Regions from separate parts of the Homo sapiens genome. Here region 2 is linked to region 1. Evidence: fine-mapped expression QTL. A gene starts in region 1. The other region holds a variant in brackets. All regions are shown on one strand. Distances are between the middles of the regions.

Region 1 (4,506 bases):
GCTGGGGTGGGGGTGGGCTCCTGGCCCTGCTGTGTGTGTGCAGGGGTGGCTGTGCCTTCCAGACGGGGCCCGGGGTGTATGTGTGTGTCTGTGTGTGTGTGTGGGTGTGTGTGTGTGTACTAACCAGTGCCAGGCAGCGTGGGGGTGTGTAAGGATCTGCTGAGAGTGTGTGTGTGTGTGTGTGTGTGTGTGTGTGTCGGGCTGAGTGAACCCCGGGTCTGTGGGCATGAGTGCATTCAGAAGGGCGTGGGGTAAGGAAGGACCCCCGCAGGAGAGTGTACGCGTGACCTTGTGAGATACTCGTGGAGGGGTTGTGTCAGCGTGTGTCTGCGTGTGAGGACCCGGGGGTGGGGCGGGGTGTGACAGTGCAGGAGTGTCTGTGCTCACTAGGGCGTCTAGGTTTGTGTGAGAAGGAAAGATAGGCCGGGCGCGGTGGCTCACGCCTCTAATCCCAGCACTTCGGGAGGCCGAAGCGGGCGGATCACGAGGTTAAGAGATCGAGACCATCCTGACCAACATGGTGAAACCCCTTCTCTACTAAACTGGGCGTGGTGGCGCGCGCCTGTAGTCCCAGCTACTTGGGAAGCTGAGGCAGGAGAATCACATGAACCCAGGAGGCGAAGGTTGCAGTGAGCCGAGATTATGCCATTGCACTCCAGCCTGGGCAACAGAGCAAGACTCCGTCTCAAAAAAAAAAAAAAAAAAAAGAGAGATGGCAGGGGGGGTGACCCCACCGGGAATAAAGGTTTGAGGGTGTGTGTTTGAGGTTAGGGTATGTGTGTCACTGGGAGTGGGTTTCTGGGAGTGAACATTTGGGAACACTAGTAATGGCAGACATTGGGACATCACCCCCAACTTGCCAGGCTTACTCACTTACTTATTCACATTTACTCATTACTTATACAAGCTTGTTCACACTCATTCAGTCCTTACTAGAACACAGTGAAGATCTACTAGTAATACCCTGTTACAAGTGGGGAAACTGAGGCACGGGGGGGAAGGCCCAAGGCCACACAGAACACAGATCCCTGTTAACTTCCATCCTAGATCTGGGAACAGGCTGCCACTTCTCTGACATAGGTCCGTTCTCTCGTCCCCCCACCCACAACTCACATTCCAGCACGCACCCCGCGCACGTGCACAGCACCGCGTGCATCAGCCCGCGTGCAGCAGGAGGCGAGGCTGCGTGAGTGTCCCCATCACCGCGCGCACTGCGCGGCCCCGCAAGTTTTACAGGCGCTTTGTGGGGACGTGCATATGTTGGGGTTAGGGATCTTCTAGGAAGGCCTAATCTGCATGCGAACCCCCAGGCTGCTGGAATCAGAAACATGCAGGCAGCCAGGGCCGGAGTGAGGAGGAGGCCCCAAGAACCTCAGCGGCGGGAGCGAGAAACCAGAGCACGGGGGCTCCAAGAACGCAGGCGGCGCGGGGAGGAGTCTGCAGGGCGGGAGTTTTTCGGTCACCCCGCGGGGCGGGGGCGGGGCCGCAGCAGTCCCAGCCCAGCTCAGCCATCCCAGTCCCGTCCCCGAGTTAGCCCGGCGCCGCCAGGGAGCGCTGTGGGAGCGCGGAGCCGTCGGGGAGGAGCCCGGGTGGGTTTGGGCTCCCCTGCCCGTGAGCCTTGGTGCCAGGAGGGGGCGCCGGCGGGAGCTAGGAGCGAGAAATCCCCTGCAGGGCTCTGAGGCCGCACTGGGGGACTTACTGCTTGATGGGGGGCGCTGAGGACAGCGGGTGTCGTCATCCGTCCGAGGGGAAGACTTTGCGTCTCAGTTCCCTGGAAGAGCTTTCTTGGGAGGGGGCTTCTTCAGCTTCTGGGGAAGGAGAACCTGGGACGAGATTGGAGGGGGACACCCCAATCCTCAGTGGGGTGGGGGGAGCTGTATGCGGGGGCCACAGCTGTTGGGGTGTGGGCCATGGGTCTTAGTTCGCCAGAAGGGGTCGGGGGAGCGTCTTGGAGCTCCGGATTTAGGCAAGAGGAGCCGTCAGGGGTCCCCGGAGTGAGGATGGGAAACAGCTAGTTTGAGGGGGGCGCCGCTCTGGGGGCTTCCCTTGAGGGGCTTCTTTAGTGAAGGGACTTCTTGGCGCCTTGTTCTCTGGAAGGGGACCTGGGACAGGTTTGGGAGGTCTGGCAGAAAGGTCAGATCCTCGATAGAATGTGGGGGGCGCCAAGGGCCACAGGCACTGGCGTCGGGACAGCTGCGGCTCTTAGACACCTTCGGAGGGGGTGTCTTGGGGTCCCGGCTCTCCCGAAGGGGAGCCGTCGGAGTCCCCGGGGCCGGGGGAGAAAGCCGTCTAAAGGGGGCTCTGTGGTTGGTTCCCGCGCCTCTGCCACCTGCGCTCCTCCGGTCCCCTCCGGCGGGGGCGGGGAGGGCGGGGAGGGCCGGGGAAACCCGAGCCACCGCCCCCAGCCCCGCCCCCGGCCCCGCCCCCGGCCCCGCGCCGGCCGAGCCGTCCGCGGCGGGACGGGCGGAGGCGGCGGGAGAGCGCGCCCTGAAGCCGCTCCGAGTGCCCAGGTCCCTCTCGCCGCCGCCCCGGAGCCCCGTGCTGCGCGCCGAGGCCGCCTGCGCCGTCCGTGCGCCCCCGCGCCCCGCGCCCTCTGAGCCGCCGGCCGTCCAGGGCACCCACCCCCAGCCCCAGCCCCCGCCGGCCCGGGATGGCCGCAGCCCGCGGCTAAGCGAGCCCGGGGGGCCCCATGGGCCGGCCCGCGCCGCACCCCGCCCGCGGCCGCCCCCTCCGGCCCGGGCCCCCCCCGGGCACCGCGGGCCCAGGCGGCCCGGATGGCGGTCGCGGCGGCTGGGGCAGGGGCTGGGGCCGCGCGGCCGCCACTGACGGGTAGTCCGGCGCCCACAGCAGGTAAGCAAGGGGCAGGCGGGGCAGGTGGGGGGGCAGCAGGGTACGACGGGGACGACCTGCCCCATGGACGGGGCATGGAGGGTGCTGAGGACTCCGAGTAGACCAGGGGATTCCCTCCTGCAGCAGAACCAGCGGGTGTATGAGGGTGGGGTCAGAGGGACGACAGGTCAGCGCGTGGGGAGGGGCGGGGGCGTGAAGCCAGATCCTAAGCGGCTCTCCAAGCCCGAATCCAGCCGCGGTGTCCCTGTCCGACGGGGCGGGCGCACTCCTGTCTCCTAAAACCTCCAAGTGTGCATCTGAGGAACGCACGGTGCCCTCCCCAGAATCCCCTTAGCCTCTAGGAGGGCGAGACCCAGACAGCCCTTTAGCCATGTGGTCTCCAAGGGGCCGTTGGGGGGCTTCCGGATCCTGCAGAGCCCGGGCGGGGGGCTGCCGTCGCGGTCCAGCTGCGCACAGAAGTAAACATCTGTCAGTGGCGCGTTCCCTGCTCGCCGCCGCCGCCGCCGGGGACACGGTGTCCTCCGGTGAGGGCCGGGCCCTCTCGGCTCCTGGAGCAGCCCGTTCAGCCACCAGAGGGCGTGAAACCCTTTGGTGTTGGGGGTGGGGGTCCCTTAAGGGCAAAGCCTGGATGTGAAGTGGCGGGAGGCTGTGCCTGCCTTTCCTGCTTTTTATAAAAGGTGTCTCCTGCACGGGGATAGCCCCGAATTGTCCCAGGAGGTGGTTTGTGGATTAGGAGTTATTAGGCCCAAGGGGGCTGCAGACAGATTAGTGGGGAGGGGGGTGTGCTGGAGAGAGAAATGGCTCTCCCAGGGTGAATGCCACCACTGTCCCCTCCCCAGAACGCATCCGACCTGCCCACAGGCCTGTGATTACCTGCAGGGCTCGTCATTGGTCCAGATTTGGGGAGTGGGGCCAGGGGCTTAAAGCAGGGGGGTGCAGGAGGCCGGACCCCTGACTTTCCTCCCTCTTGCCTGTCTCCCCTGCCCTTTCCCTGTTCTCTACATCCTTGTCCCTGTTCCATGGCCCTCTTTGTCTGTCTCTGAGTGCCCCGGGCTGAGGAAGCCTGGGTGGGGTGTGACCAGCCTCAGAGGATGTCAGTGAGGGGCAGGATCCCACCCACACTGCCAGCTTCTCCCACCCCCAGCTTCTTGCCTTGGGGCCCTTTGGACACCCCTCCCTCCTCCCTTCATCCTAAGACTCCCGAGGTTCATAGCTCCGGCACCGACTCCACCCCCAGGGAGCTACAGAAAGCTTCTTCCAGGGGTGCAGGGAAGAAAATAAAACATTCCCCTCTTCAGCTGGGTACTGCATCTGAAACTCCACCATCAGCACTGGCCCCTCGGCGTTTCAGGTCCCAGTTTTCAGGGAGCGAACAGAGGAGACAGCTTTCAAGAGCTGGGCAGAAGGGACTCAAAAAGTTTGCAGCCGGGCACAACACAATCAAAAGATTGTTTCGACAAATGTGTGTCGATGGCAACCGCGTGGTTGACTGGTGTCAGGGTTGTTGGGTGCTGTCCTTCAAGGGAGGCAGATTTAGACCCAGGGACACAGGGCTGGGGAAGCTCAGAGTGGGGATGGAGGGCTCTACCTCAGGGTAGGAATGTCAGAGAAGACTTCCTGGAGGAAGGGCCTCAGAGGTGGGGCTGTGAAGGATGA
Region 2 (4,000 bases), 35 kb before region 1:
TTCATCATCGAGAAGTAAGCCAGCGTCCCCCCGCAACACCTGACACCCAAGGCGACCATTGGGCCTGCAAAAGCCAAGAGCAAATTAGGAATTTTATTTATTTATTTATTTATTTATTATTATTATTGAGATGGAGTCTCGCCTGTCGCCCAGGCTGGAGTGCAGTGGCGCGATCTCGGCTCACTGCAAGCTCCACCTCCCGGGTTCACACCATTCTCCCGCCTCAGCCTCCTGAGTAGTTGGGACTACAGGTTCCCGCCACCAGGCACGGCTAATTTGTTTTATTTTTAGTAGAGATGAGGTTTCACTGTGTTAGCCAGGTTGGTCTCAATCTCCTGATCTCGTGATCCGCCCACCTCAGCCTCCCAAAGTGCTGGGATTACAGGCATGAGCCACCGCGCCCGGCCTATTATTATTTTTTAAGAGATAGGGTCTGGCCCTGTGGCCCAGGCTGGAGTGCAGCGATGCGATCATAGCTCACCACAGCCTCGACCTCCTGGGCTCAAGTGATCCTCTTCCCTCAGCTGGCTGGTCCCACATGCTGTCCGGCTCAGTGAGCATGTACTGCCACGCCCATACGAGAGTCTGGGCCTCAGTCAATTTGTGCTGCTTTAAAAGACTACCTGAGGCTGGGTGATTTATAAAGAAGAGTTATGGCCGGGCCCGGTGGCTCACGCCTGTAATCCCTGCCGAGGTAGGCGGATCACTTGAGCTCAGGAGTTCGAGACCAGCCTGGCCAACATGGCAAAACCCCATCTCTACTAAAAATACGAAAATTAGCCAGGCATGGTGGTGGGCACCTGTAATGCCAGCTACTCGGGAGGCTGAGGCAGGAGAGTTGCTTGAAACTGGGAGGCAGAGGTTGCAGTGAGCCAAGATTGAGCCACTGCACTCCAGACTGGGCAACAGAGCAAGACTCTGTCTCAAAAAAAAAAGAGAGAGAGAGAGAGGAGGGAGGAGGCTGGGTGCAGTGGCTCACACCTGTAATCCCAACACTTTGGAAGGCTGAGGCAGGAGGATTGCTTGAGGCCAGGAGTTTGAGACCAGCCTGGGCAACCTAGAGACAAAAAAAAAAAAAAAAAAAAAGAGGGTGGTGGGATGGGGGGAGGAGGTGCCAGGCTCTTAAACAAGCAGTTCTCATGGAAGCTGAGAATGAAAACCCACTCAGTACCATAAATATGGCTCCAAGCCATTCATAGCTCTGCCGTTGTGGCCTAAACACCTCTGACTAGGCTCCCACTCCAACACTAGGGATCCAGTTTCAGCAGGAGCTTTGGAAGGGACAAATATCCAAACCATACGAAGACCCCTCATTGCACCCAGCATGAGGGAGCTCCTTGCCACGCGAGTGCACACTTCCATGTGATTTGTAAGACCTGAGCCCTCAAATGCAAGTCAAGAGTCAGTTACCCATTTAGAGCTGAGGCCTAAACTAGTGCTTCTGGGCTGCTAAGGGGCAGTGACTTTGGAACCTGCGGAGGACACAGAGGGGAGTGTCATCTTAGTCTATGTGGGCTGTATTGCAAAATGCCTTAAACTGGGTAATTTATTAGTTGGTGCAAAAGTAATTAC[G/A]GTTTTGGCCGGGCAGGGTGGCTCATGCCTGTAATCCCAGCACTTTGGGAGGCCGAGACAGGTGGATCACTTGAGGTCAGGAGTTTGAGAGCAGTCTGGCCAACATGGTGAAATCCCGTCTCTACTAAAAATACAAAAATTAGCCAGGCGTGGTGGCACATGCCTGTAGTCCCAGCTACTCAGGAGGCTGAGGTGGGAGAATTTCTTCAACCCGGGAGGCGGAGGTTGCAGTGAGCTGAGATCACGCCACTGCACTCCAGCCTGGGCAACAGAGCGAGACTCTGTCTCAAAAAAAAAAAAAAAAAGTAATTACGGTTTTTGCCATTGAAAGTAATGGCAAAAACCGGCCGGGCGCAGTGGGTCACCCCTGTAATCCCTGCACTTTGGGAGGCTGAAGTGGGTGGATCACCTGAAGTCAGGAGTTCAAGACCAGCCCAGCCAACATGATGAAACCCACATCTCTACTAAAAACACAAAAAATTAGCCGGGCGTGGTGGTGGGCACTTGTATTCCCAGCTTCTCAGGAGGCTGAGGCAAGAGAATCACTTGAACCCGGGAGAGAGAGGTTGCAGTGAGCTGAGATTGCACCACTGTGCTCCAGCCTGGGCAACAAGAATGAAACTCCGTCTCAAAAAAAAAAAAAAAAGGCAAAAACCTCGATTACTTTTGCACTGATCTAATTTAAGGAGCAGAAATTTTGCTGGGCTTGGTGGCTTATACCTGTAATCCCAGCACTTTGGGAGGCTGAGGTGAGGGAATCACTTGAGGCCAGGAGTTTGAGACCAGCCTGGGCAACACAGCAAGACCTCATCTCTACAAAAATTTAAAATATTAACCATGCGTGGTGGTGCGTGCCTGTAATCCCAGCCACTCGGGAGGCTGAGGTGAGAGGATTGCTTGGGCCCAGGAGGTGGAGGTTGCAGTGAGTCATGACTGCATTACTATGCTCCAGCCAAAAAATTAACTAGAACAGAAGTTCCAATATCATCTGGTCCATGGCTCTCAATCGCCCACCTCAGATGCCACCTCCTGCCACTCTCATGGACGATCCCCATTTGCAAAAAAGAAACTGCGGCTGTGAAGGGTTGGCAGACTGGGCAGGAACTCACAGACTCCCCATCTCTGCTTCTTGGTGTCTTGAAGGGAATTCTACGACCCCGGCTTCCAGGGGCAGCAGTCCTCCGAGGACCTGCACGTGTTTTACTCCTACCAGCAGCTGGGCTGTCCTCTCCTCGTCTACTATGACACCCTATGGAAGCCCGTGGTGGAGCTGTAAGACCCCAGGGGGGTGCTGCAGGGTGGGGACGGTGGCAGGGCCTCATGCTCCCTGGCCCTGGGGTACCAGCCTGGCCCTCCAGGCTCCCCTAGATCCCTCAAAATGATGATGGTCACTGTTTCCCACCGTGCTCCTGCCCCAGCCCCACTGGCCCCCAGGGCCCTCTCCCTGGAACACCTTTTCTTTTTTTGAGACAGGGTCTTGCTCTGTCGCCTAGGATGGAGTGCAGTGGCATGATCTCAGCTCACTGCAGCCTCTGTCCCTTGGGCTCAAGCGATCCTCCCACCTCAGCCTCCCAGGTAGCTGGGACCACAGGTGCCCACCACCACACCCAGCTAATTAGCAGAGATTTGGTTTCACCATGTTGGGCAGGCTGGTCTTGAACTCCTGACCTCAGATGATCCGCCTGCCTTGGCCTCTCAAAGTGTTGGAATTACAGGCATGAGCCACTGCGCCCGGCCGATGGGCTTTTCTTTATGCCTGTGCACTCCTGCTGTCTTCCTGTTCTTTTTTTTTTTTTTTTCCACTCTGTCACCCAGGCTGGAGTGCAATGACATGATCTTGGCTTACTGCAACCTCCACCTCCAGGGTTCAAGCGATTCTCCTGCCTCAGCCTCCCGAGTATCTGGGATTACAGGCGCGTGCCACCATGCCTGGCTAGTTTTTGTATTTTTAGTAGAGATGGGGTTTTACCATGTTGGTCAGGCTGGTCTCGAACTCCTGACTTCGTGATCCACCTGCCTCAGCTTTCCAGAGTGCTGGGATAACAGGCGTGAGCCACCATACCTGGCCATCTTCCTGTTCTTATAAGGACACCAGTCTTATCAGATCAGGGCCCACCCTACATCCTATGACCTCATATAGCTTTTCTTTTTCTTTTCTTTTTTCTTTTTTTCTTTTCTTTTCCTCCCTTTCCTCCCCTCCCTTCCTTCCTTCATTTCCTTCCTTTCTTTCTCTCTCTCTGTTTCCTTTTTTCTTTTTTTTTTTTTGTGTTGGCGTCTTGCTCTGTTGCCCAGGCTGGAGTCCAGTGGCATGAACACAGTTCATTGCAGCCTTAACCTCCCAGGCTCAAGCGGTCCTCCTGCCTCAGCCTCCCAAGTAGCTGGGACTGCAGTTGCATACCACAATGCCCGGTTAATTTTTTTTTTTTTT

The links. PIP is the estimated chance that this variant, and not a neighbour inherited with it, causes the effect.
Region 2: its variant is the best candidate, but not a certain one, in a credible set for the expression of NRTN in whole blood (TOPMed, PIP 0.85).

What each region holds. Positions count from the first base shown.
Region 1 is chr19:5,802,602-5,807,107 of GRCh38, forward strand. NRTN (neurturin) reads left to right here and starts at 2,466. Exons shown (of 3, transcript NM_004558.5): 1 at 2,466-2,850. RefSeq lists a silencer at 1,357-1,656 and an enhancer at 1,357-1,651.
Region 2 is chr19:5,768,229-5,772,228 of GRCh38, forward strand. It overlaps CATSPERD (catsper channel auxiliary subunit delta), which reads left to right. Exons shown (of 22, transcript NM_152784.4): 18 at 1-14; 19 at 2,716-2,844. Among named protein-coding and RNA genes, the nearest start is that of PRR22, 15 kb to the right of the region's middle. The variant G/A (reference allele first, on the strand shown) is at 1,573.